Linked DNA regions of Homo sapiens. The protein of the gene in region 1 interacts with the protein of each later gene in a pairwise test. Each region holds a gene or a part of one and is shown in the gene's direction. Other genes may lie near its edges.

Region 1 (4,684 bases):
ACGACACTGACATCCCTGTCCCAGACCCTGTAATTGGCTCAACTTCCCATTGTCTTTGGTCCCCTGGTGGGCAGACCTTTCTCCTATAACCCAGTAGGATGCTTTTTGGTTTCCTTTTGTTTCATTTTAAGCTAAATTAATCTGAACATAAGACAGATCTGTCATGTTACACCAGCAAAAGGCACCCATTCTGCTGCCAACTCCCAGGGCTGGGCAGGATGGGGACAGTGGCTTTGTCTCCTCATCATCACTTTTCAGAGTGGCCTCGACACCTGCCTTCTCAATAAGTCAGCACCCTGTCTTGGCTGACTCAGGTGTCTCTGTGCACAAGGTCCTCTGCTTGTGTGCAGACCGGGCCCTTGAAATACAGACTCTGCCATCACGCCAGCCTGCCTGCCTGCACTTTGAAATGGTGGCTTTCTCTGCTGTCTTTCTTGCCTGGCATGGCCACACCTACCCTGCCCCTTGCCTGCTGTTTGGTGGCGAGCTCTTGGGCATTCAAGGAAGGAAACAAGCAAAGAACTTCCTACCTTCGGGCCCTGGGATAGGTGCTCTGTCCTGGTTAGGGTATTTTCAGGACATGTGGGGGAAGCTGACAGGCAGCTATGGTGGAAGGAAAAGCTCAGGCTGGAGGCTGACAGGTGTGGATCTGCAGTCTGGATCGGCCGCTTTGCCAGGCTGTGTGGCCGTGGGGAGGTTGCCTGCCCTCTCTGTGTTTCAAGCTCTTTGTCTGTGAACAGGGTTTGAAGCCCTGTCTGGCACATAGTTGATGATGTTCAGTCTATGCTTATTTGCAGTGGTGAGGGTGTCGGGTGGGAAGAGGCAGGGGTGGGGGGCTTTGAGGACACATACACTGTCACTGTATCAGGATGGCCCTGACCCCTTCCTCATGGCCGGCCCTGACCCTGCCTGTTTCCTCCCCGCCAGGGCGAGGGGGTGCAGCAGCTGAGAGAGGCCCTGAAGATCCTGGCAGAGCGAGTCCTCATCCTGGAGCACATGATTGGGATCCACGGTGAGCAGTGACCAGGATCAGCGGGCTGGGAATCTCTCTCCCCTCCTTCCTCTCCCAATGCTGCCCTCATGGCTGCTGCCTAGGGTCTCTGGTCTCCCTCCCTTGCCCCTAGTCTGACCCTCCCCCTCCCCTGCTCAAGGACCCTCAGTGGCTCCCTGCTGCCCTTGACAGACTTCCAAGTGCATCAGCCCAGTTTCCCAGCCCCTCCCTAGTATAGCCATGGTGGGCAGAGCCCTGCCCAGCCATGTTGAGGCCCCTCCCACCTCCATGCCTTTGCTCGGGCCATGCCTCTGCCTGGTGAACACTGACTGCCACTTCGGGACCTGCTCAAAGATCTCGGCCTCTGTGAAGCCTTCTCTGAACCCTCCTCTTTGTCCCTATGGTGACATAGGGGAGGCTTCCATTCCATGCTGGGGTTTCTGTGACCCTCTGGGAGTCCCTTGTGCAGAACAGTGAATGATACCTCTGCAGGGCCTGGAGTAGAGGCCCATCAGCATTTGCTGGAAAATGAATGGATGAATGAATAGGTGAATGGACAGGTGGGTGGGTGAGTGAGTGAGTGAACGAATGGCTGGTTGCCTGGATGAATGTATGCATGGGTGGATGCATAGATAGATGAATGAATGAATGAATGAATTGTTGAATGGACAGGTGGATAGGTGGATGAGTGAGTGGATGGGTAGATGCATGGATGAATAAATGAATGGGTGGATGGATAGATGGATAAATGGATGGATGGATGGATGAGTGGACAGGTGGGTGGGTGAATGAGTGAATGGATGGATGGATGGATGATGGATGAGTGAACAGGTGGGTGGATAAATGAGTGGATGGATAAGTGGGCAGGTGGGTGGGTAAATGAGTGAATAGATGCATGGATGAATGAATGAATGGGTGGATGGGCGGGTGAGTGGACAGGTAGGTGGGTGAATAAGTGAGTGAATGGATGGATGGATGGATGATAGATGGATGGGTAAATGAGTGAATGAATGGATAGATGCATAGATAAATGAATGACTGAGTGGATGGATGGATGGATGGATGGATGGATGGATGGATAGATGCATAGATGAATCAATGAGTGGATAGGTGGGTGGGTGGATAAGTGAGTGGATGGATGGGTGGATGGATGGATGGATGGATGGATGGATGGATGGATGGATGGATGGATGGACGGGCAGGTAAATGAGTGAATGAATGGATAGATGCATAGATAAATGAGTGACTGAGTGGGTGGATGAATGGGTGAATGGATGAATGGGTGGATACACAGATGGATGAATGGGTCAATGGACAGGTGGATGGGTGAATGAGTGAATGAATGGATGGATGCATGGATCCATGAATGAATGAATGCATAAGGGGCTGAAAGCCTGCTGCTGCCTTGCTTCTCCACGCTGGGCAAGAGCATCTCTCCGTGGCCACATATCATGATCAAATGTACCCCCAAGTGTTCCTAAGGCTCTACCTCGAGTCCACCCTCCTGCTCTCCTTCCAGATCCCCTGGCCTCCCCAGAGGGAGGTTCTGGCCAGGATGCTGCCCTGAGAGCCAACCTCAAGATGAAGAGGGGTGGCGCCCAACCCGATGGGGTCCTTGCTGCCCTGCTTGGGCCCGACCCTGGACAGAAGAGCGTGGACCAGGCCAGCAGCAGGAAGTGAGAGCCCACTGCTCCAGGACACCCTGTCCTGGCTAGAGACCCAGCCCCAGAGGCCTGAGCCGCCGCTGTTTCCTAAAGATGCCCCCAGGGGAACTGGGCTCCAGGCATGGATGATTGTGAGGACATGGGGGGCTTTGGGGACAGATAATGTCTCCAGGGGCAGGGTCTGGAGGGGCCAACACCCTCATCAGAGCCCTCCTCTGGCCTGTCCCCTCCCCTACCCCCACTCCCGGCTGGAGACGGGGTCTGGGTGGGCTGGGTGCTGGGAATGAGAATAATCCTAATACCCATCATTTATTGAGTCCCTGCTGTAACTGGCCCTGTCCAGGGAACTTTCGTTACGTTGTCTCATTATTTAACCCTTAGGAGGTAAGCTTATTATCCCCACTTCACAAGGGGACCGAGGCTCAGACGGTAGAAATAACCCTCTCTTGGCCACCAGATCACGGGTGGCAGGGGCAGGATTTGAACCCAGGACCCTCAGTTCCTGAAGCCATGTTCTCTCGACCCTGCCAGCTTCCCCTCTTCGAGAGAAAACTCAGACAGGGAGGGCGCAGGGCCAGAACGGCTCCTTAAGGCAGGCAGGGCTGCGGGGAGGCTGGGCCAGCCAGCCTGAGGGGGTAGGCAGGGTCCTGCAGGGCCTGGGGCTTCCCTTCCTCATCCCCCTTCCCCACTGGCTGGGGGAGCAGCCTGGACTGCAGCTCTCAGAGGCCAGGGAGACCCTGAATAAATCACTGCCAGCCATACGGACTTGAGGACCTTGAGAGAGAAGCATTGGGGGTGCAAGTGTCCACCAAACCAGATAGGCATCCCTGGCCACTGCCTCCCAGTCTTGCTGAGCCCACCCGCTCTCTCTGGGTCCATCCCATCCCTGAGCCAGGGGAGGCAGCATTTCATGGGCATGTCTATCAGAGGTGGGACTTGCAGCCTCTGCCCCACGAGTTTGTCTCTCAGTGGACTCTATAGGTTTGCTACTTTTGCATGACACAGCAAGCCCAGTGTCCCCTTTGCAAGCTGCAGAGAGGGAAACAGAGTCCCAGGCCTGCTGGGAAGAGATGCTCCTGCCTCCCACCTTCCAGAGTTGGGGGCCTGGCAGGCTCCATGGCAGGCACCAGGTCCCTAGCAGCCCAGAACAGCTCTGACTGGAGCCCTCAAGGCCTCTGGGGCCAGGGTCTCCGTGATCAGCTCAGCCCTGGTGTTCCTCTCTTGCTGGGCTGGGACCTGGGACACAGCCACGGCAGCAAACTCAGAGAATTGAAGGTGCTGGCGCCACCCTGGGGCACTCTGTCTTCACAGCAGGAGTGACTGTCTCCAGTGCTCTTGGTACTCCTGTTTGGCTGTGGCCTGGTCCCTCTGGGCCCTGGGATCTTCTTCTGGCCCTTGAGGCAGGTCTGGAGAGGCAGTCTCTGTCTTCATGGAGGGGTGGTCAGAGGCGGGCGGGACCACCAGCCTGTAGCGTTATTATTATATGTGACAATAAAGGTGCTCTCCCCACTGTGGGTCTGTTTGTGTGGTGACAGCTCTGCAGGAGGCTGGTCTGCATCTTACCGGCCAGGTGCCAGGGAAGCTGTGAGCAGCTCCAGCCAGGCCCGGGGTGACCACAGGGCCTCTGTGGCAGGGAGGTCCAGCTCTGCCCTCAGGACCTCCAGGGAGGGGGCTGGGAGTGACACACGATAGGCAAGCCCCGGATTGGGGCTTAACCTGCAAGGGCTCTTGGCTTCACCCAGCAAAGAATTCAAGGGCAAGCTGGAGGCAAGAGAAACAGCTTTATTGGAGGGGCAGGACTACAGCTCCATGACTGCTCGTGCAGAGCAGGGCTTCTCCCCAGGCAGAGAATAGCAGCTCAGGGCAGTTCTGCACCATATTTATACCTACTTTTAATTGCATGCAGATTAAGGGCTGGTTTATGCAGAAATTTCTAGGGAAAGGGTGGTTATTTCCGGGTCATCAGGTCTTTGCCATGGAAAAGGGCAGTGGCTCCTGAGTGTTGCCATGGTGATGGCAAACTGACATG
Region 2 (7,034 bases), on another chromosome or scaffold:
ACCACACTGGCTCTCTCTGGATGGAATTTCCATAGGAATTATTTCTAACAATTTCTGCTGTGAAACATGGTGCTAAGAAATGACTCAGGAAGATCTGTCACCAGACATTTGAAATTAAAGCAAAGAGTTCAGAAAGATGCCTTACCTCTTACTCAAAGGAAAGATACTTACAGATATACCATCCATTGGAATCTCTGTATTTTCACAATCTAACCCAGGGCTTCGATGGATGGATGGATGGATGGATGGATGGATGGATGGATGGATGGATGGGCGGGTGCATAGATGGATGGGTGGGTGGATGGATGGATGGATGTGGTAGTCAAATGGGTAAGTGCGTAGGTGGGAAAGTAGATGGGCAGATGATGGAGGTGATGGAAGGAATAAGTGAACAGGTAAATGGAAGACAAGACTGGATGGGACTAAACTCTTTTTCATCCTGGAGGATCTCTGAGTCTCCCTCTAATTCAATACCTATCTCCAATATCCCTCCATTCTCTACCATTCCTCCACCCAAAACACACTTATGTCCATGTTAATCATCTGAGAAATTCTGCAGGGCACAAGTTTAAAGAGCCTTCAGGCAAGCCCTGAACTGGAGGCTTGGAAATCAAGGGCTCAGGCACTTGGTTATCTGGTTTATTTCACAATCTGCAGAGCATCGTGCGGGTTTTTCTAAACCTGACGCTCTGAGCCCCATGGGCCTGTGGACTTGCAAACACCCTGAACTATCAATATGCTCAGCTGGGCCCCTGCCCTCTAAGTTGCTGTAAGTCCCAACTCCCCAGGAAGAGGGCAGACTGAGCTCAAACCATTCCTCAGAAAGGCAGAACCATGCTCAGCCTTCCAACCTCATCTGCACACTCTGAAGGTGGTGCATGCAGCTCCAGGAAGCCTTTGCTTCAGTGTTCTTTCCCCTCCTAACTTTGGGTGAGTTTGTCCCTTCCTGCTGCTGGTGGGTGATGCTGGAAGGAGCTGGGTGTGGCTGGGGCTGCTGTCTGCAGTCAGATGGCACAGACAGGGACAGGAAAGGTTTTGTGGCTTCTCCCCACAAGCTCTGGCTCTGGCTACTCCACCCTGTTGGCCAAGGGGCTGAAGGGCAGAGCACTGGCCTGCAAGGGCTGAGCAGATCTCCGTGCCCAGGGAAGGGGCTCACCCTGTCAGGGCGGGCTACCAGATGGGCTGGGAGCCTGCTCTGCCCTCCCTGTCCCTGCCTGCTTTGAGCAGGCCTGGTTCTCTTGCAGATTGAACAGGAGGGTGTCACAGTGAAGAGCAGCTCCCACTTCAACCCAGACCCTGATGCAGAGACCCTCTACAAAGCCATGAAGGGGATCGGTGAGTGGGTGTTGGCAGCCTTGCCACCTCTGCTCAAGACCCCTCCGCTCACAGCCCTGGAAAGCGGGTGCCAGGGGACATCTGGGGAGCTGGGGTGTCCCATGATACTCTGAAACTGATTCCACTACCCAGAGAATCACACAGCCCTCTGTTTCTGCAGTGAGGTCAGCACCCACCCTGCAAGACTGGACAGGAGGGTGCTGCTCTTCCCTGGGTAATGGGGGTGGGGAGGTGAGCTGTGTGTCTCTGTGAGTGACTTCCCATCAGTCTCAGCTTTCTCACTTGTAAAGTGGCCCCAAGAATTCTTGGCCTTGTGTGTCACATGAAGTGTGAAGGGGGTGGTGCTTTATGATGCCAGGCACAGAGCTGCCAGGGGTGTGAGGTGTTGGGAGTTTGTGGGGCTGATTCAAGGCCCCCTTGCCCCATGTCGATGGCCATGGAGCCGGCTCCCTTCCCATCTCCTGCACTTGCCCAGTGCTGCCCTCAGCACTACCGTGAGTGGGCGAGGGCTGGCCTGAGGCCAGATTTAAACAGCTTGCCCAGAAAGCCCTCCTGACCTGAGAGCAGAGCATGTACCCTGACCTCACCCCAGGTGGGACTGACCCCTTAGCCGGCTCTGCCTGAGGATCAGGGGCCTTAATGAGAACTGCCGCTCCTGACAAGCCCAGAAAACGTTCTCATGCCCTCTGCTTTCTGTGAAGCAGAAAGTTATCTCCACTTCCCAAATGAGAAAACGGAGGCCCAGGGAAATGAGGCTGGCTGCCCAATGCCACGCAGTTGCTGGGCCAGGCCTCGGATTCAGGGGTTGGACTCTTAGTCTTGACCTTCCCCTACTGCGACCAACACAAAGGAGGGCAGGGCCAGAGATCTCACTCGGCCAAGCTCCAAAGGCCCGGGCTGATGTCCAGAGCCACCCAGACCTCAGATTCCATCTTGTGAGGCTGGCCTTGGGCACGCCCCAACATTGTGGGGGTGTGGGGTGGGAAATGGGGAGGCAGATTTCCTAAGGGTCTTGTTTACACCACGAAAATGGTCTGGGGGTTTGGAACTATCCAGGTGTCGGGTCCCAACTGCTCAGCCACCAAGCAGCTGCCTTCGCCTTCCCCTCCTCCGCCCTCACCAGTGTGTCACCCTGGGGGCAGCAGGGTCACTTGTGCTGTAACCCTGCAGGGACCAACGAGCAGGCTATCATCGATGTGCTCACCAAGAGAAGCAACACGCAGCGGCAGCAGATCGCCAAGTCCTTCAAGGCTCAGTTCGGCAAGGCAAGGGGAAGGCTGGTGGGGGTGGGGATAGGTGAGCCTTGGGGTTGGGGGTACAGCCTGGGAGGCAGCTCCATTCTGGACGACTTTCCCCTAGAGCCAGCCCACTGGCAGCATGGGCACATGGAACATGTTTGCATGAAAACAATTGTTCTTTATTGAAATTCAAATGTAACTGGCTGCCCTGTGTTTTATCTGGCAGATCTACTTTTAGGTGTCAGAGCCCGGGCCGGGGGCTGGCCTTCCTTGCTTCCTTTCCTGCCTCCTCTCTCACAGCATTCCTTCTCATGCACCCAACAGGCCCCACTGGAGGTCTGTCTCCCTGCCCCCAGGCTATCTCGCCCTGCCCTCTGAGCCCAGACCACCTTCTCTTTTCCATGCCCCAGGCATGCAGGCCTGGCTTTGCTCTGTTCTGGGGCGTGGGCATGCTTTCCTCAGTCGAGCTGCTTGCACCCACACCTCGTCCCTTCTGCCACCTGGGAATTCTAAGAGCCTGGAGTAAGCATGCCAGGCCCTTTGTTTCTCCTCCCACCTGCACTCCACCCCTAGGACAAAGCCTGACATTTGGGGGTACACAGTAAACACAGGATTAAATATGTGCACAGCCATGGTTGCCTCAAGCCTCTAGTGACTCATATCATTAGTTTGGAGATGTAACGAAGGAAGATCAGCTCAAATATTCTCTTGGAGAACCCAGTATGCATTTTTACAGTTTCCCTCTCTTAGTCCTCACAGTGATACATTCTTTGTATTCAAACATTTGGGGAAACTGGCACTCAGAGAGGTTTTAAGTTGCCCAAGGTCCCAGAGCCTGTAATCAACAAGGTGGGGATTAAAATCCAGGTCTGACAAAGCCCTTGATCTCTCTGCTGCTCTGTAGATCAGCTGATGTAGCCTGGTGGCTCCTCGTAGCAACATGTGACCTTAGAAGGAGGCACATGTGAGACGAAGTCTTTAATTCAGGCATGCATTCATTCATTGAGTGCCAAGTGACAGGTATTTTATGGTGATGCCATACTCAGAGCTTGCAGTCTAGCTAGCAATACCAATTTCATTTTACTGAGAGCTTATGATGTGCCCAGCACTGCACTGAATGCTGAATTGAGTCACACACAACCCCCTAAGCAACGGGATGAAGCAGGAGCACGTTTCTCTCCGTGTAACCGGTAAAGATACTGATGCTAAGAGAAGCTAAGGAGCTGGCCCAAGAAACCCAGCCAGCACGTGGCAAGGCCCACGCAGAATCCAGCCCAAGCCCCTGGACCCAGCCACCACTCCGCTGCCTGCACTCAGGTGGGCCTGGCTTATGACAAATATCACCTTTCCCTGTTCCCGCATTAGGACCTCACTGAGACCTTGAAGTCTGAGCTCAGTGGCAAGTTTGAGAGGCTCATTGTGGCCCTTATGTACCCGCCATACAGATACGAAGCCAAGGAGCTGCATGACGCCATGAAGGTAACCAGGCAGACAGGGCAGGGGAGTGGCAGGGGTGCTCACATGACTGGGTAGGGGCAATGCGGGGACCGGGAACCTACAGCCCAGAGCTCCCCTTGAGCCACTGTTTGGAATGGCCATATGGGCCATAACTGGGCCCAGTGAGCAGGCAGCCTGCTGCTCAGACTGCACCCAACACCTGGAGTCACTGGTGCCTGATTGACACGTTGAGTGGCCGTGATGAAGCCAAAATCAGTACTTCTCAGAACCTCACGAGCTCAGGTGTACAGTGGTATTGGAAACCCACCTCTACAGTCCCAGGCACAGCCCCTTGGGTTTCCCTTTACCTCTCACTACTCTTTGCTTTTGCAGATTAATAAGGATGGGGACCCAGTAACTATAGTCATTTTGTTTGGAAAGACACTTGCTGCATGGGCACTGCCAGGCATTTTACACCCACGCTCCCTAATCTATCTTTGGCGCAGGGGAGGCTTCTTATTCCTGTTTATGGATCGGGATGCTTAGGCTCCAGGACATGGAGCAGCCTGTCTGAGACCACCCAGCTAAGGAGGGAGAGCTGAGACAGGGCTTCCCCGTCACAGCACTTGCCCTCAATGTTCATCACTGAAGCATGTGATTTTCTCATCACATCCTCCCACTTCAAGTGGGGCAGGGCAGTGAGGTCCTTCCTGAGGCTCAGGCATCTTGAGAAAAGAAGGTGTGGACAGAGCAGAAGGTCATGGCAGAGCACTCCAGCAGGCAGAGGTTTCTGTCCACAGGGCTTAGGAACCAAGGAGGGTGTCATCATTGAGATCCTGGCCTCTCGGACCAAGAACCAGCTGCGGGAGATAATGAAGGCGTATGAGGAAGGTAAGGGGTGGCACAGATGGAGGGGCTCAGGAGTGGCCACAAGCTTTGGCAGCCTGGCAGGGAACAAGGATCAAGAATTAACCTGGGCCACACTAGAAAGGACCCTTTGGGGACTTTTTTACCCACAGGTGCTGAGCACCTACCGTATGCCAAGATCTGTGCCTGATGGTGACACTGAACATGATTCAGACTTGATCTGTAAGCTCACCAGCTCCTCTTACAGGGGAGAGAGGCCTGTGACCAACTAAAATCTCTGCCCTTGAGGACTGTGGTAGTAGGGGGTGTGGACCCCAGGCTAGCAGAGGCCAGTCAGTCCTCCACATCATGTACCTAGTGGGGAGTTTTCCTGGAGGCTTTGGCTTTGCCAAGCCTTGAGATGAAATGGAGCTTGGTTGGCAGCCCCTAGCCTGGCTCTCTGACCTGGTCCATCTTGTGCTTTGAGCTTGGTTGGGTACGCATGTCGCTTCTAGTTGTGAAGCACCACCCAGGCGACAGCCACTTGGACACCCGGGCATTGCATCCATGCCCTGTGCCAAGGACTTTCTTTCCTAGAAGGCTTTAATAAGGAGAAGTATGGGGAACAGGGCTGGAAGGAGGAAAGCAGGCCCCGGGTAGGCTGTGGGCCTCTGCTTGTGCCTCATGGTCCTGTTTCCCTGCAGACTATGGGTCCAGCCTGGAGGAGGACATCCAAGCAGACACAAGTGGCTACCTGGAGAGGATCCTGGTGTGCCTCCTGCAGGTGTCACAGCCTAGGCTCTTGGGAGTGCCTTGGTTTGGGAGTCCCAACAGCTCCACCCCAGGGAGCAGCCCTTGAATAGCGCCACAAGAGTCAGGGTAGGGGCATGGGATAGCCCAGCAGCCAGGGCTCATTGGGTGTGTCTCAGCATGGTTAGAGGGTCCCAACTGCAGAGCCCCCACACCTGTCCTTACTCAGCCATGTGAGAGCATCCTGGAAGCGGGAGGAGAGCAGGTCCTTCGTGCAGGCCTCATGCCAGGCACTTTGCTTACCTTAGCTCACTGAATCCGCCAAGCCTTATGAGGCAGTCCTTACCACCCCCATTGTACAAATGAGGAAACCAAGGGCTGAAGAGAATAACTGGCTTGTCGAAGTTTCCACAGCCAAAGAGCAGCAGAGCCATGCCTGCCCTCCAAGCCCAGGATCCCCCCTGTGCCCTTAATGCTCTGGTCAGCTGGCCTGCCTTACAGAGCCACCTCCTCTGTTCCTAGGGCAGCAGGGATGATGTGAGCAGCTTTGTGGACCCAGGACTGGCCCTCCAAGACGCACAGGTGAGGCTGCGCCCAGCCGGCCATGTGGCCCCACCCCCTGCCATCTGGACTCCGGCTCCTCTGCCCACGGGGGCTTTCTCTGACACTGGGCTGGGACCCACCCAGCTCAGCTCCCTATAGGCCTTTGTCCTGTGGTGTCTGGGGAGGAGAGTGAGGGTGTTGGGAGACTCGGGAGGAAGGAGTGTGACTTGGGGGTGGGGGAGCACTAAAGCTCTGTCCTGGCAGGAACAGCCCATGAACCCGGGGGCGCTAGGCCCCAGTGCTGGACACAGGTGTCCGGGTCTCTGTAGGTCTGCCTGCTGGCAGAGGGAAGTCTGGGGACCAGGCAGTTCCTAGAGCAGCTTGTGGCCCAGGATAGAGAAAATATTCTAAGCCAGAGCTGCTAGAGAAAGGGGAGCTCCCTGTCAGAGACGACCAAGCAGGGGAGCATGCTGGCCTGGCAGAGTGGACAGGGCCAGGCCATGGCCACAGCTCTGGGACTCTGGGGCTCAGTCCCTCACCTCCCTGGTCTCCCTCACTGGCTTATTGTGGGTGTCCCAATGCTAGGATCTGTATGCGGCAGGCGAGAAGATTCGTGGGACTGATGAGATGAAATTCATCACCATCCTGTGCACGCGCAGTGCCACTCACCTGCTGAGAGGTACCAGGGAGGGAGGGGCTGGGGCCGGGGCCACAGGGGGTGTCCTGGCCATGAGCCTCTCCCTCGTGCTTCTGCCTTGTCAAGTCTAGAGTTAGGGAGAGAGCCAGGGAGCCCAGGACTGTTTCCCCAGCCACCAGTGGGAGGTCAGGGCGGCAAATTGATGTGCGATCTCTGATCCGAGACACTGAGGGGCATCACGAGGAGGT
Region 3 (7,034 bases), about 22 Mb from region 1:
ACCCATTGAAATTTTATAAGAAGATTTACTTTTGCCACAGTTGCCAGCTTTATTTGCCTTCTACAGAATTTTCTGTATCATCCACCTCACGCCGCATATACCGGTGTCGTAACTGCATTAACCTTCAGAATGAGGCTCAAAAACGAGAATCATTTTTGAAGTACAAATGTTTACTTCAACAGCTCTACTATACAGAAGCTGATTATGAAGATGATTCTAAAATTGCTTTCTTGATGCAGGTATGGTCAATAAGGGGTGCCAATTATAGCTGAAGCTTGTCAAGGAGGCTATCTTGCAATCTTATGTATGTTTGTGTGTGTGTGTGTGATTGTTTAATGACTCTCTATTCCACTAGACTGTAAGCTCTGTGAGGGCAGGAGTATGCTTTTTTTCCCTCCTGCTCACCATTATACCTCTATAACCTAATACAGTACCAAGTTTTTATTTAAGGCCCTCAATATTTGTTGAATGAATGAATGACTTTTACAGAAACTGATGTTACATATACACATACTAGTGTTTACGAATAACAGTAATAATTAGTGTAAACCAAATGTGACCATAATGGTAAATAACACCAAAAGTGAAAGCTAAGGCTTATAGAAAGTAAAAAAAAAAAAAAACCTTAGGGAAAGGCTTTGATACTTGTCTATGTAAAGTGTTGATATGATACCACACAACTGGAAAGTTTCTGGCCAGAGTTCTTTTGGATGAATCATTGCATTGGATCATTGACCCTACGTAATCTGCTTCTCGTAAGAACTTCTAGCTCTGTGAGAGGGTGGAGCCTGTGAGATCAGGAATTCTGACCTGAATTCCTAACTTAACCACTACTTCGGTCTCTTTGGTTATTCCATGTCTTCTATTGGGTTTAGGCCAGAGGATAGTCTGTGTCTCTACAAAATAAAAACAAATTCCTGACACTGTTTGGACTTAGGTAAGCAAGTGAGAAAACAGAAGGACTTACTTGTTGTTGATATGGCTACCCAACATTAGCCACTTATTAATAAAAGTATATTATAGAGCACAATTGACCTCATTAATGATATTTGTGTTCACAGACTGTCAAATAAGGGCAAATTTTCTGTAAATTAGTTACTAATTAAAATGAACTAAATTGTATTTAATACCAAATAGGAAAGTAGGCACTACTATGAATAGAAAACTTTATAGAGATTAAAAAAAAGATACCAAATGTGATGTGCTTTGTTAAAAAATTCTTCTAAATCCATAGCTTTCAAACTTTTAAATCTCAATCTATAGTAAAAATGTATTTTTATGACAACCTGATATAGGCATGCATGATAATTCTCAATACTCAGTACCTATATGGCTTTACACACTTTATTGAGTTAATCAGCACAAAAATCCTATCAAAATAGGCATTATTTCCATTCTGCAGGTGAGGAAAGGGAAGCACTGAGTGGTTAACTAACTTGTCCAAGTTTACGCTACTAAGTACCAGCACCAGGATTGAAAACTAGGCAGTCTGATTCCCAGCATCCGTACATGTAAACACATGCTGTTCTGCCTCAGAAATAAAAGTTTCCAAAATAGTGTTTATCTTTACCCCTATGGATGTACTCTGATATTTTCTATTCAATCTCAGTCTACTTATTCTGATTTCCATTTGGAAAACTTTGGTATCACCCAAGAGGTAGCAACCCACAGTTTGAAAAGCACAAATTAAAATGATTACATATTTTGTCCAATAGAATGAATATTTTGTTAATAAATTTGATGTTTATTTCAGCTTAAATTCTTATTTGCTACTTTTATTCAGGAATTATTGACATGACAGATGTATATTTCCTTGTAGAGAATCTTAGATGTACTAGGGCTTTAATGTAAGTCACCAAGAAGTGCTGGCTCAATATTCCATGTTGTATTAGTCAGATTTCTCCTGAGAAACAGAACCAATAGAAAATGTTATACATATATGTTATATATATATACATATAAGGAGATTTGTTACAAGGAATTTGCTCACATAATTGTGGAGGCTGGTAAGTCTAAAACCTAAACAGCTGATGGCCCAGTTCAAGTCTGATGACCAGCAGGCTGCTATAGAGCCAGGAGGAGCCAGTGTCTCAATTCAATGGCCATTAGGCAGAAACAGTCTTCCTTACTTGGGGACAGGGTGAACTTTTTGTTCTATTCAGGCCTTCAACTGATTGGATAAAGCCCACTCACATTATGGAAGACACTCTGCTTTACTCAGTCTACTGACTTACTTAAATGTTAATCTCATCCAAAACTACCCTCACATAAACACCAGAATACCGTTTGACCAAATATCTGGGTATCCGGTGGCATCATCAAGTTGATGTAAAATCAACCATTACACATATTGAATGAAAAAATTCTAGGGGAGCATTGTAACCTTTCAGATAAGGATAATCTCCATTAGATGTGATTTAATTTCAGTACCGTATCTATGTAGGGTTTTGGTCTATTACTTTTCCAATGTCTAGGATTAGCAGACAAATATGAGTGTCCAGTAGCTTCCCCCCCCTTGTAATTGGTGTAGTTTTGATTAATATTTATTTCAGTAATAGTATTTGAGGCATAATTTGAATGTTTGAACATTCTCATAAATAGTAAATCTTGTGGACAACAGCAAAGATTAGCATATGTTAAATGTGAACATGATGCCATGTAAAATGAAAAGGTGAAAGTTAATATATATAAAAAGTAAACATTCTGCTTAGACAAGAGATTTGAGTGTTGTACTAGTCACCTCGTTTATCTGTAATGCATACAAATACTGCCTAATATAATAGGCAATAGTATTGCTCTGTTACTGCAAAAATTTCAAGTACAATGACTACTTGAAAGGTAGAAAGCTCTTAGAGACTGTCAACCACACTTATGTGCACATTTGACATTTACATGCAAATAAACACGTTATTCTGTATGATACAATTTCAAAATTATTAGTACAGTTGAGCAACTAAATTAAAAACAAAAATGTAAACAAGATGCATTTTGAATGTAAGTAAAATATATAAAACATTGAATTTTAAAGGTCTATAAATTTATTTTTCATAGCAGCTGTGTACAGAGTATTGTCTTTTTTAGCATTAAGTAAAAGCTAGAATGCATTAGTTGAGCTTAATATATTGAATTACCAATTTATGAAATACTGTTGTAGCTGATGATGACAGGTTCTTTTTGTTTTTTACTTTGGCAGATTGTTTAGGTTTTGTGTACTCATTTTACAGAAAATATTTCTGCTCTCACACTTTTTCACAGAAGCTTTTTTAAAAAATATTCTTTTTACATGCTTATACTTTGTTGAGTTTGTCCGTCTCTGGCAATTCTAAATTTATAATGCAGACCCCATGATAAAAAGTCATTCCAAGAGTTTTAGCTGATAAGATTTACGTTTTTTAAAAAGTTTTAAACAGCTATTTCATTACCCCTCTTTTTGATTAAAACAACCAAGTCTTTTAATTAACACTAAGTGAATTACTTATCTTTATTAAATCTCAACTTCCTGTGTTTGCTTCAGCAGCCCATATACTGAAATTGGAACCATATAGAGAAGATTAGCATGGCCCTTGGACAAGGATGACATGCAAACTTGTGAAGTGTTCCATATTAAAAAAAAAAAATCTCAGCTTCCTCATTTGTAAAATGGCAGTAAAAGGTTTTAAAAGGTCCCTACAATGGCCCTGAAATTAAGATGGTACTTACTAATGAATTTTAAAGATCATTCAATACCATATGTTTATTATGGTAACATTATAGTATTATTAAGATTATATTCAGGTAAAATTAGCATACTGAAATGAATTTATACTGCTTACTCTGGTTTAGAGATGGGGACGCAACTGTGAGACTGATAATGTAGTTTAGGCAAAATGAACAGAAGTTTAGTGAAAAATAAGGGGCTATGTGTCATTGAAACCTAGTGAATAATAATTCACTTAAAAATACTCTATAATTTAATTATTTGCTCAAGTAATATAATAATCTTAAACAAATTTAAACTACATTGTTTTTAAAACTTGCTTTGACATGCAGCTACAAGACATTCAGTACCTGACAGAGAACATCTGGGCGTCCCAGTCAGTCCTCAGTGCTTGCGACAATCTCAGTGATCTGGTCATGGTCAGATGGAATAAATCCCTGGAGTGGTCCCCCTGGAACTGCATTCTTCTTACCAAAGATGAAGCAGCTGCTCATCTCAAGCTAACAAGTATTGAAGAGGTAAGAAAGTTGAATTTTATTTGGGAAGTTAATTTAATCATTGGAATTATTAGCGATAACTGGACTGCCTTCTAATATATTCCATGCTTAAATACTTCCATCAGATTAAGAAACAGAACTTATGGATTAACAACAAAAAAATTTATGGATGGCATATATGGCACAGATTAAATAAAAGGTATATATAAGAGATTTGAACATATTACAAGTCCTAAACATCATACCAGTCTCTCCTAATAGTAAGTTTAAGCACATTCCACGGTAAATTCCATGAAGGCAGTGATTTTGTTTGGCTTATTTACATCTATTTCTCTAATACCTACAATACTGCCTGTCACAGAATGGAGTTTATAAGTATTTGTTGAATGAATAAATGTGCATTACCACCAGATAGGTATTATGGAACCCAGAATCTGTCCTTCTTTGATTAATTATCATGAGTCTGCTTAAAAACACCCAACTCTCAAATTTTGTTCATAATTTTGTGCTCTAAATAGCAATCATACTGATGGGGTGTAGTTCTGATGCTCCATTTTTCATTTGCTTCCAACTTGCTGGGAGTGGAGCAAGCACTGTAAACATTAAATGCCATTTACTGTAATTTTAGTAACTTACATGATGCAATCTGTAAAACATTTTGATGGGTAAGTTGAGGGACTCCTGAAGAGTTCGTAGAGAGCTCCATTTACACTAGGTCCAGGATCCCGAGAGTTAATACTGATTCTCTGCATTCTTTAATTCCACACAAGGTGTCAGCTAAAGGAAAGTAAAGAAATGACAAAATGCAGTAGTCGTTTAAAATAGTGTGATTCCCTGTTTGTTTTTTTTCAGTGGAACAAGGGGTGATGAATATAAAGATAAGAAACTAGCTAAAGTTTTAGTTTTTAAATATTTTTTTAGTTTTAAGAAGCCAGGCTAAGAAAAATTTCACTCTAGGGATTGAAAGAAAAGGTAGCAATAAGTTGAAGCTGTATTAAATGTTATATTTAGTAAACTAAGCTGCCTCATAAATATTTAATCACAGGAAGCATAGTCAATACTAGCAATATCATTTCATCTAGGACCCATGATGAGATTGAAGTTCATTCCCAAAGCTGATATTCCAGTGCTTCTTCAATTAATCCACACAACTCCCTTTGTGCATTTAATCAAATTACTGCAGTATCAAATTAAATGTTCTATTCACATGCATTTCTAATTTAGAATGCCAGTCTTATCGAATTTCTGTAAAGGGCACCAAGATTTGCAAGCAGACAAACTGGAAAAACATTTGCCTTTTTTATGGTTTTGGGCTGATACAATCTTTTAACTATTAACTTTCAGCCCAGTTAAAGAGTAGTTTATATCTTGCAGAAAGATGGAGCATTTTCAGAATTTTCTTAATGTTCAGAGATATTTGCTTTCTTAAGAAGTTAAAAAAATACTTGCAAGTTAATATGAAACAGGTATAGGAAACGTGGAAAAACACTTTCGTTAATGTGAACTTTAAGTGGAGCAGATTGATCTCTCCTTGTGTGCACACTGGCCAAAGTAGGAACAATCATGGACTTAAAATCAGTAATCCTGACCCAGTTAACTCAAATCTCTGTCACTGACAACTTTACATTAAAACCTTCCCTCTTTGCTTCATAAATTTTTAGAAAGATTAGCTAAATAAGTGGAATCAGTAAAGAGGATAAAAGCAGCTCTGGCTCTGAATTCTAGCTTTACCATTCATGAGCTGGGAGAAATTGGACAAATTTGTGAATGTCTCAATGACCCAGCTTTCTCGTCTATAAAAAAGAGATAATGGTATCTCATCATAGGGAAGCTTTGAGTAGGCCATTATTTAAAGCTTTCTGCATAGTTTTTTTTGGCATGAATAAACTTAGGTAGTAACTATGAAAGCACTTTAAAAATTTTTGATGCATTTTATTTTTAATTTTAAAGCAATATATTATTGGCTTAGAATCTGAACAGAATAAAAAATGTAATGTAGAAAGTAAAGGTCTCAGAGGTTGAGGGAACAGGGAGAGATTTGTTAAGGATACAAAAATTATAGCTAGATGGGAGGAGTGAGTTCTAGTACTGTTCTGTGGCACTGTAGGTTGTCTATAGTTAATTACAATATATGGTTTCAAATAGCTAGACGCAGCATATCGAATGTTCCCAGCACAAAGAAATGATAAATGTTTGAGATGAATATGCTAATTACTCTGATCATGATATATGTATCATCCCATCACTATGTACCCCGTAAATATGTACAATTATTATCAATTTAAAAAATTTAAAAAACGACTGAATGAATAAATAAAGGGAGGCAAATAGACAAATCTCCCATGTAGAATTCCAAATAATTTATGTAGATACTCTCCACTCTTAAGGAGATGGAGAATAACTCTCTACCCTTTAAATGTGGGCTGTACATAATAACTCCTTTCCAAAGACTATATTATGGATGGAAGGGGAGGACCTTTACAGTAGAGAAACTTGACAAACACTACCTCAGCCAGGTAATCAAGATTAACAGCAGCAGTGCTGTCATGCTGATGGTGTGTACCCTTGATATGATGTGAGGAGAAGGGCACTTCACCCCTGTGGTCTTCCTCCCCAAAACCCATCCCTTCAGTCTAATAATAATGAAGAAAACACAGGACAAACCCAGATTGAGACACATTCAGGAAAATGTGGGTGTGGGGTATATGGGACCTTTCTGTAATATTCTTAGAACTATTTGTACACCCAAAGAATTTGTGAACATAGTTTAAAACCATCACATGGCTATTTCAAGAGAATGGACCTTATTTCAATGGGAAAAAAGGTCTCTTGATGTCCAC
Region 4 (7,034 bases), on another chromosome or scaffold:
ACTACATTATTTGTTCTTGCTTTAAAGCACAGAACTAATAATTTCATATCAGGAATTTTTTATGTGATATTTCATATTTTAGTAAACTCTTTGAAATATTTTTGTAGCATGGTGCTGATGTCAATGCAAAGGACATGTTAAAGATGACAGCTCTCCATTGGGCCACAGAACACAATCATCAAGAGGTGGTGGAACTTTTAATCAAATATGGTGCTGATGTACACACGCAAAGTAAATTTTGTAAAACTGCATTTGATATTTCAATAGACAATGGAAATGAAGATTTAGCAGAGATATTACAGGTAACTTTTGGCTTTTAATTTAAGAAAATAAAGAAAAAGAAGCCTTATCAGTAGAGGGATCTCTTATATTGTGCATGATTTAAACTATTGTTTGTAGCCTTTCATTTTGGACTTAGTTATTTTGGATAGGCCTTTTTCTCTTTCACTTCCTCTTTGTTTATTACTATTCATTTTCTTGATTATAAGGCCAGTCTCTTCATTAACATTAGATAAGGTGATTACTTTCTGTTTTTTAAGTTTCTGAATTTCCCTTTAGACCTTTTTTTTTTTTTTTTTTTTTTTTTTGAGCCAGAGTCTTGATCTGTCCCCCAGGCTGGAGTGTAGTGGCACGATCTTGGCTCACTGCAACTTCTGCCTCCTGGGTTCAAGCAATTCTCCTGCCCCAGCCTCTCAAATAGCTGGGACTACAGGTGCATGCTGCCATGCCTGGCTAATTTTTTGTGTTTTAAGTAGAGATGGTGTTTCATCATGTTGCCCAGGCTGGTGTTGAACTCTTGAGCTCAGGCGATCTGCCTGCCTCGGCCTCCCAAAGTGCTGGGATTACAGGCGTGAGCCACTGCGCCTGGCCCTAGACATTTTATTCTATTATTTTTGTTGCATTTTGATACTATATGGTTTTTCCAAGTCTACTATAAATGACTTTATAAAAATTAAAAAACATATATATTAGCAACCATAATATCATTCCTTGAGTGAGTGATGCAGTTTGATTTGTTTCTTTTATCTTTCAGCATCCTCAAAAATATCTGTTGTTTTTGGCTTTTGGGAAGATTTTTCTAGTAACCAACATTACTTCTCTTATTTTCAGCCAGATGACATAATATAAATTATCTTCTTTAATTACTGCCTCTTCTTGCCTGTTTGTTCCCAATCCCAGCAGTAGAACTCTTCTTTTCTAAGACTATCTGACTCCTTTGAGCTTCCACTAGTTACTTAAAAGATGTTTTATGTTCAGGAAAATGAATTCTACCATGCCTCTTTTCATTCCTTTTACTCCTAAGAGTGCAGTTTGGGGGTTGGAGTTGAAGATGGGGAACAATTAATTGAGAAGGACATGCTTTATATATGTGGTATTATGTATTGCCAAACGTAGAAGAAATAATTAAATTCCTATAGCTACAGGGCAGAAATATTTTTTGTTTGTTTTGTTTTTGTTTTTGTTTTTTGAGATGGGGGTCTCACTATGTTGCCCATGCTGGTCTTGAACTCCTGGGCTTAACCACTCCTTCTGCCTCAGCCCCCTGAATAGCTGGGATTACAGGCACCTGCCACCTCAGCCAGCTTAATGTCCAGTTGTTCTGTGTTCTGTTAAAAACCTTTTAGATACTCGTTTCTCCTCTCCCAGGATTTTGCTGCTTTACCTAAGAGGGGGACTTGGGATATAAATATATACCCATGATGTGCCCCTACACTGTCAGTGGACCTTAGACAAATATTTCCACTTGTACTATGTGATTCTTCTTAGAGAATACTCCTTTATATGTGTTTGTATTATATGGAGAATTTGTGCTATATGTTCTGGTTATAATTCTGAAAACACTGTGGTCATTTTTTCCCTAGATTGCTATGCAGAACCAAATCAACACAAACCCAGAGAGTCCTGACACTGTGACAATACATGCTGCAACACCACAGTTTATCATTGGACCTGGAGGGGTGGTGAACCTAACAGGTCTGGTATCTTCAGAAAATTCATCCAAGGCAACAGGTATTGAGATGCATATAGGATAGGCTTTGGGATTTTATGCTTTAGTAGGTATTCATCCTTGTAAGAAAGGACGGTTGGAGAATGAGGGTAAGATTCTATCAGCCACCTTTGTTTTCTTTGGTATAACTGGCAAAAAGATTTTTATGAGACAAAACAATCTGAAGAAAGGTGATATTACAAAATTTACTGCAGTATTACCTTTCAAAAGCTAATGCTATCCAAGCTTTGTTTAAGAGTCAGTAAGATAAATAGAATATCAGAAATATGCATTGGATTAAGCTCCTTAGAAATTCAAATCTATTTTCTTTTTTCTTACAGATGAAACGGGTGTATCTGCTGTTCAGTTTGGAAACTCTTCTACATCAGTATTAGCTACATTAGCTGCCTTAGCTGAAGCATCTGCTCCATTGTCCAATTCTTCAGAAACTCCAGGTTAGAAAAACGAGTCTAATGTGTACATTAAAATTGCAGATTCAGGCTGGGTGCCGTGGCTCACACCTGTAATCCTAGCACTTTGGGAGGGCGAGGCGGGTGGATTGCCTGAGCTCAGGAGTTTGAGACCAGCCTGGACAACATAGTGAAACTCTGTTTCTACTAAAAATACAGAAAATTAGCCAGGCGTGGTGGCACATGGCCTGTAATCCCAGCTACTCGGGAGGCTGAGGCAGGAGGATTGCTTGAACCCGGGAGGTGAAGGCTGCAGTGAGCTGAGTTTGTGCCACTGCACTCCAGCCTGGGTGATAGAGCAAGACTCTGTCTCAAAAAAAAAAAAAAAAAAAAAAAACCAAAAACAGTTGCAGATTCAAATATTTACAAAGGCCAGGAAGACAATAAAAGGCTAAAGTGGGCAGGATTGAGATTACACCCGGCTGAAGAATGGGGCAAGGGCAGGGAGGCATCTGTGACTCAACTCTAGCTGATTATAGTCATCAGTCCAGTATTCCCAAATTCTGTTTTTTAATAGGAAGCTGTGAATCTGGATTTTAAAAGAACATTAAATCTTGGTAACTAATTGAAAAACAAAACTTGTGTGGCTCACAGAAAAAAATGTCCCTGTCTCTAATTTGGCTCTTGATTTACTAGTTTGTGACTTTTTGTTTAAACAACTCACTTTGGCTGGGCATGGTAGCTCACACCTGTAATCCTAACACTTTGAGAGGCCAAGATAGGTGGATTGCTTGAGCCCAGAACCCTGGGCAACATGGTGAAACCCTATCTCTACCAAAAAATATAAAAATTAGTCAGGTGTGGTGGTCCACTCCTGTGGTCCCAGCTGCTCAGGAGGCTGAGGTCAGAGGATCGCTTGAACCTGGGAGGCAGAGGTTGCCATGAGCCAAGATCATGCCACTGCATTCCAGCCTAGGCGACTGAATGAGACCCTGCCTCAAAAAAAAAACCCAAAACCAAAAAACACTTTTTTCATAAATTTTAATTTTTAGCAGCTCTACTAGAGTGTTATAAAATCTTAATGACTGATAGAACTAGGAAATAGTATACAGAAACCACTGTTAAAGGGTTACCTGGCTGGGTGCGGTGGCTTGCTCCTGTAAGCCCAGCACTTTGGGAGGCTGAGGCGGGTGGATCACCTGAGGTCAGGAGTTCGAGACCAGCCTGACCAATATGGAGAAATCCCGTCTCTGCTAAAAATACAAAATTAGCCAGGCGTAGTGGCCCATGCCTGTAATCCCAGCTACTCGGGAGGCTGAGGCAGGAGAATGGCTTGAACCCGGGAGGTGGAGGTTGCGGTGAGCCGAGATCACGCCATTGCACTCCAGCCTGGGCAACAAGAGCAAAACTCTGTCTCAAAAAGAAATGAAAGGGTTACCTGTTGTTAAATGATGACAAACAGTATTCATGAACATTTGGTTTATACAAGATTTACCTTTATACTTAACCAAAATACTTCTTGATGTAATTATTATGTCGGTAAAATTTAATTAGGAAATTTTTTAAATTCCAAGAAAATATTTTTCTGTAGCTTAAGCCATTATATTTGGTTCAGTGCTTATAAAAGCAAAGAATAATTTGTCATTCATTTTTTAAATTAGTGTTTTTTCAAAATTTGATCAATAATAACAACATTTCATCAAATGCTTACTCTCTCTGCTAGGCACTGTGATAAATATTTTACTTATAATCTCATTTATTCCTCACCAGAAAGCTTTAAGGTGGATATTACTGTAATATTCTTGACTTGGAGGAGTTGGGGGAATGCTACCTTTTTCTTTTCTCTTTTTCTTTTCTTTTCTCTTTCTTTTTTTTTTTTTTTGACATGGAGTCTCATTTTGTCACACAGGCTGGAGTACAGTGGTACAGTTTTGGCTCACTGCAGCCTCCATCTCCCAGGTTCAAGCAGTTCTCCTGCCTCAGCCTCCCCAGTAGCTGGGATTACAGGCATGCACCACCACACCCAGCTATTTTTTGTATTTTTAGTAGGGACGGGGTTTCACCATGTTGGCCAAGCTGGTCTCGAACTCCTCACCTCAGTGATCTGCCTTCCTCGGCCTCCCAAGGTGCTAGGATTACAGGCATGAGCCACTGTGCCCAGCCTCTTTTTGAAAATAACATTTATCCATTCTTTAGCTTCTGTAGCATTATAATCTAAGTTTGAATCCAAGCCTTTATATTTGGGAGTCTTAAGATTTGTATGAATCACTTTTGGCCATTAGCAGTTATATGCATCATCATACTAACATGCTGCTTTTATAACCTATGCCTGGATCTATTTAATACTTATGTAATTGCAGAAGCATAGCAAAGAAAACTGATTTCATTGGTGGTTTCTATTTGGTTAAACTTGTAAATTTCTTTTCTTTAATTAAATAACTTACCTCTGGCCGGGTGTGGTGGCTCATGCCTATAATTCTAGTACTTTGGGAGGCTAAGGGTGGCAGATCACTTGAGTTCAGAAGTTCAAAACCAGCCTGGACAACGTGGCAAAATCCTGTCTCTACAGAAAAAATTAGCTGGGCATGGTGGCAGGTGCCTGTGTTCACAGCTACTTGGGAGGCTGAGGTGGGAGGATCACTTGAGCCTTGGAAGCAGAGGTAGCAGTGAGCTGTGATCGCGCCACTATACTCCAGCGTGGGTGACAGACCAAGACCTTGTCTCAAAAACAAAAAAACAAAAACGAAAACAAAAACACATATATCTGAAAGTAAAACGGCTTTTCTTCTAAGTCAGCTGGAAATTTTGACATTTAAATGTGTGACTCCATGAAATGGCCACACCAATTTCTCTAACTTCTCTTAACCTTTGAAAATGTTTTGGTCTAGTCTGAGAGAATTAGTAATTTCAGTTAGTTTTTATTGCATGTGACTTAAAATCTTCTATGAGCACAATAATTTTTCATTTCAATATGACATCACAGTGGAATCTTTTTTTGGAGACAGGGTCTCACTCTGTCACCCCAGGCTGGAGTGCAGTGACGTGATCTTGGCTCACTGAAGCCTCCGCCTCCTGGGTTCAAGCGATTCTCCTGCCTCAGCCTCCTGAGTAGCTGGGATTACAGGCACACGCCACCACTCTCAGCCAATTTTTGTATTTTTAGTAGAGATGGGGTTTCGCCATGTTGGCCAGGCTGGCCTCGAACTTCTGATCTGTCCATCTCGGCCTCTCAGAGTGCTGAGGTTACAGGTGTGAGCCACTGCACCCGGCCCATAGTGGAATCTTTTTGAAGATATTTTAAAAGCTTACTTAAAAAGAAGTGCCGGGAGCGCAGGCTCACTCCTGTAATACCAGTACTTTGGGAGGCTGAGGTGGGCAGGTTACGAGGTCAGGAGTTCAAGACCAGCTTGGCCAACATGTTTCTGAAACCCTGTCTCTACTAAAAACACAAAAATTAGCTGGGTGTGGTGGTGTGCCCCTGTAATCCCAGCTACTGGGGAGGCTGAGGCAGGAGAATGGCTTGAACCTGGGAGGCAGAGGTTGCAGTGAGCCGAGATTGTGCCACTGCACCCCAGCCTGGGTGACAGAGCAAGACTCCATCTCAAAAAAAAAAAAGAAGTAATGGGTGGGCTCAGTGGCTCACACCTGTAATCCCAGCACTTTGGGAGGCCGAGGTGGGTGGATCATTTGGGGTCAGGAGTTCAAGACAAGCCTGGCCAACATGGTGAAACTCCATCTCTACTAAAAATACAAACATTAGCCGGATGTGGTGGCGTATGCCTGTAATCCCAGCTACTCGGGAGGCTGAGACAGGAGAATCGCTTGAACCTCAGAGGTGGAGGTTGCAGTGAGCCAAGATTGTGCCACTGTGCTCCAGCCTGGGCAACACAGGGAGACTCTGTCTCAAAAAAAAAAAAAAAAAAAAAAAGAATTAAGTTAAAGTTTAAGTATGTTACCACCAGAGTAAACAACTTAAAGCTCAATTTGCACATACTCAGGCAAAGCTAAATCTACCACAGATTATTTCTCTGATTTCTGGCTGTCCAGTTTCTTTAAAATCTATCGTCAGACTCATCCTGATTCTCGAAATGTTTATATATATCTTTTCAAGGGCTTGTTAGAATCTGGAAAATACATTAGTGGGACCTCCATTTTATATATAATGAAACAGGTTGAATTGGAGGTTGTGGAGGTTGAATAATTTTATCAAAGGGCATATGGCTATTAAGTAGAGAAAGGAGGATTTGGTCAGTCTGACTGATTCCCAAGGTATATGTCTGTGACCTCTATAATGTACCATCTCTCCTATGCAGTTTATTCACATGATCTCTGGGCTCTTTTAGAACGTTTATAATTTGGTTTGAGATATTTGAATTACACAATATTGAATTATTTGTGTAATTTTCATTTTATCTTATTTTAAGCAAGAGCGTCGCTATTACTTTTGGGATGTATCTGTTTCTATAGCTTTTTCTAGTAATAGGTAGTCTGTTGAAATAAGTGTTCTGCTACTTTTTTGACCTTTTTAAATGATGTTGACCAAAATATAGTGTAAGCTCCATCAGTACACTCATTGTTCCTGCTCATATTCTTTTCTTTTACTAGCTAAGTGGTACAATACACATTTTTCCTGGTTA

The links.
Region 2: the proteins of COL26A1 (region 1) and ANXA8 interact in binary tests that used the Homo sapiens proteins (3 or more experiments, as listed by UniProt).
Region 3: the proteins of COL26A1 (region 1) and IQUB interact in binary tests that used the Homo sapiens proteins (3 or more experiments, as listed by UniProt).
Region 4: the proteins of COL26A1 (region 1) and GABPB1 interact in binary tests that used the Homo sapiens proteins (3 or more experiments, as listed by UniProt).

What each region holds. Positions count from the first base shown.
Region 1 is NC_000007.14:101,554,860-101,559,543, forward strand, and holds the end of COL26A1 (collagen alpha-1(XXVI) chain isoform 1 precursor), read left to right. Parts: intron 1-927; coding exon 928-1,012; intron 1,013-2,510; coding exon 2,511-2,671; 3' UTR 2,672-4,165; downstream 4,166-4,684.
Region 2 is NC_000010.11:47,474,099-47,481,132, reverse strand, and holds part of ANXA8 (annexin A8), read left to right. Parts: intron 1-1,244; coding exon 1,245-1,335; intron 1,336-2,391; coding exon of another isoform or gene 2,392-2,505; coding exon 2,506-2,600; exon of another isoform or gene 2,601-3,890; intron 3,891-3,938; coding exon 3,939-4,052; exon of another isoform or gene 4,053-4,053; intron 4,054-4,810; coding exon 4,811-4,901; intron 4,902-5,029; coding exon of another isoform or gene 5,030-5,067; exon of another isoform or gene 5,068-5,542; intron 5,543-5,560; coding exon 5,561-5,640; intron 5,641-6,128; coding exon 6,129-6,188; intron 6,189-6,734; coding exon 6,735-6,828; intron 6,829-7,034. UniProt on the Homo sapiens protein: This protein is an anticoagulant protein that acts as an indirect inhibitor of the thromboplastin-specific complex, which is involved in the blood coagulation cascade.
Region 3 is NC_000007.14:123,454,562-123,461,595, reverse strand, and holds part of IQUB (IQ motif and ubiquitin-like domain-containing protein), read left to right. Parts: coding exon 1-239; intron 240-4,029; coding exon 4,030-4,215; intron 4,216-4,319; coding exon of another isoform or gene 4,320-4,403; exon of another isoform or gene 4,404-7,034. UniProt on the Homo sapiens protein: Adapter protein that anchors the radial spoke 1 (RS1) complex to the A microtubule of outer doublet microtubules in axonemes. The triple radial spokes (RS1, RS2 and RS3) are required to modulate beating of the sperm flagellum.
Region 4 is NC_000015.10:50,296,197-50,303,230, reverse strand, and holds part of GABPB1 (GA-binding protein subunit beta-1 isoform beta 2), read left to right. Parts: intron 1-107; coding exon 108-302; intron 303-1,862; coding exon 1,863-1,974; coding exon of another isoform or gene 1,975-2,010; intron 2,011-2,328; coding exon 2,329-2,442; intron 2,443-7,034.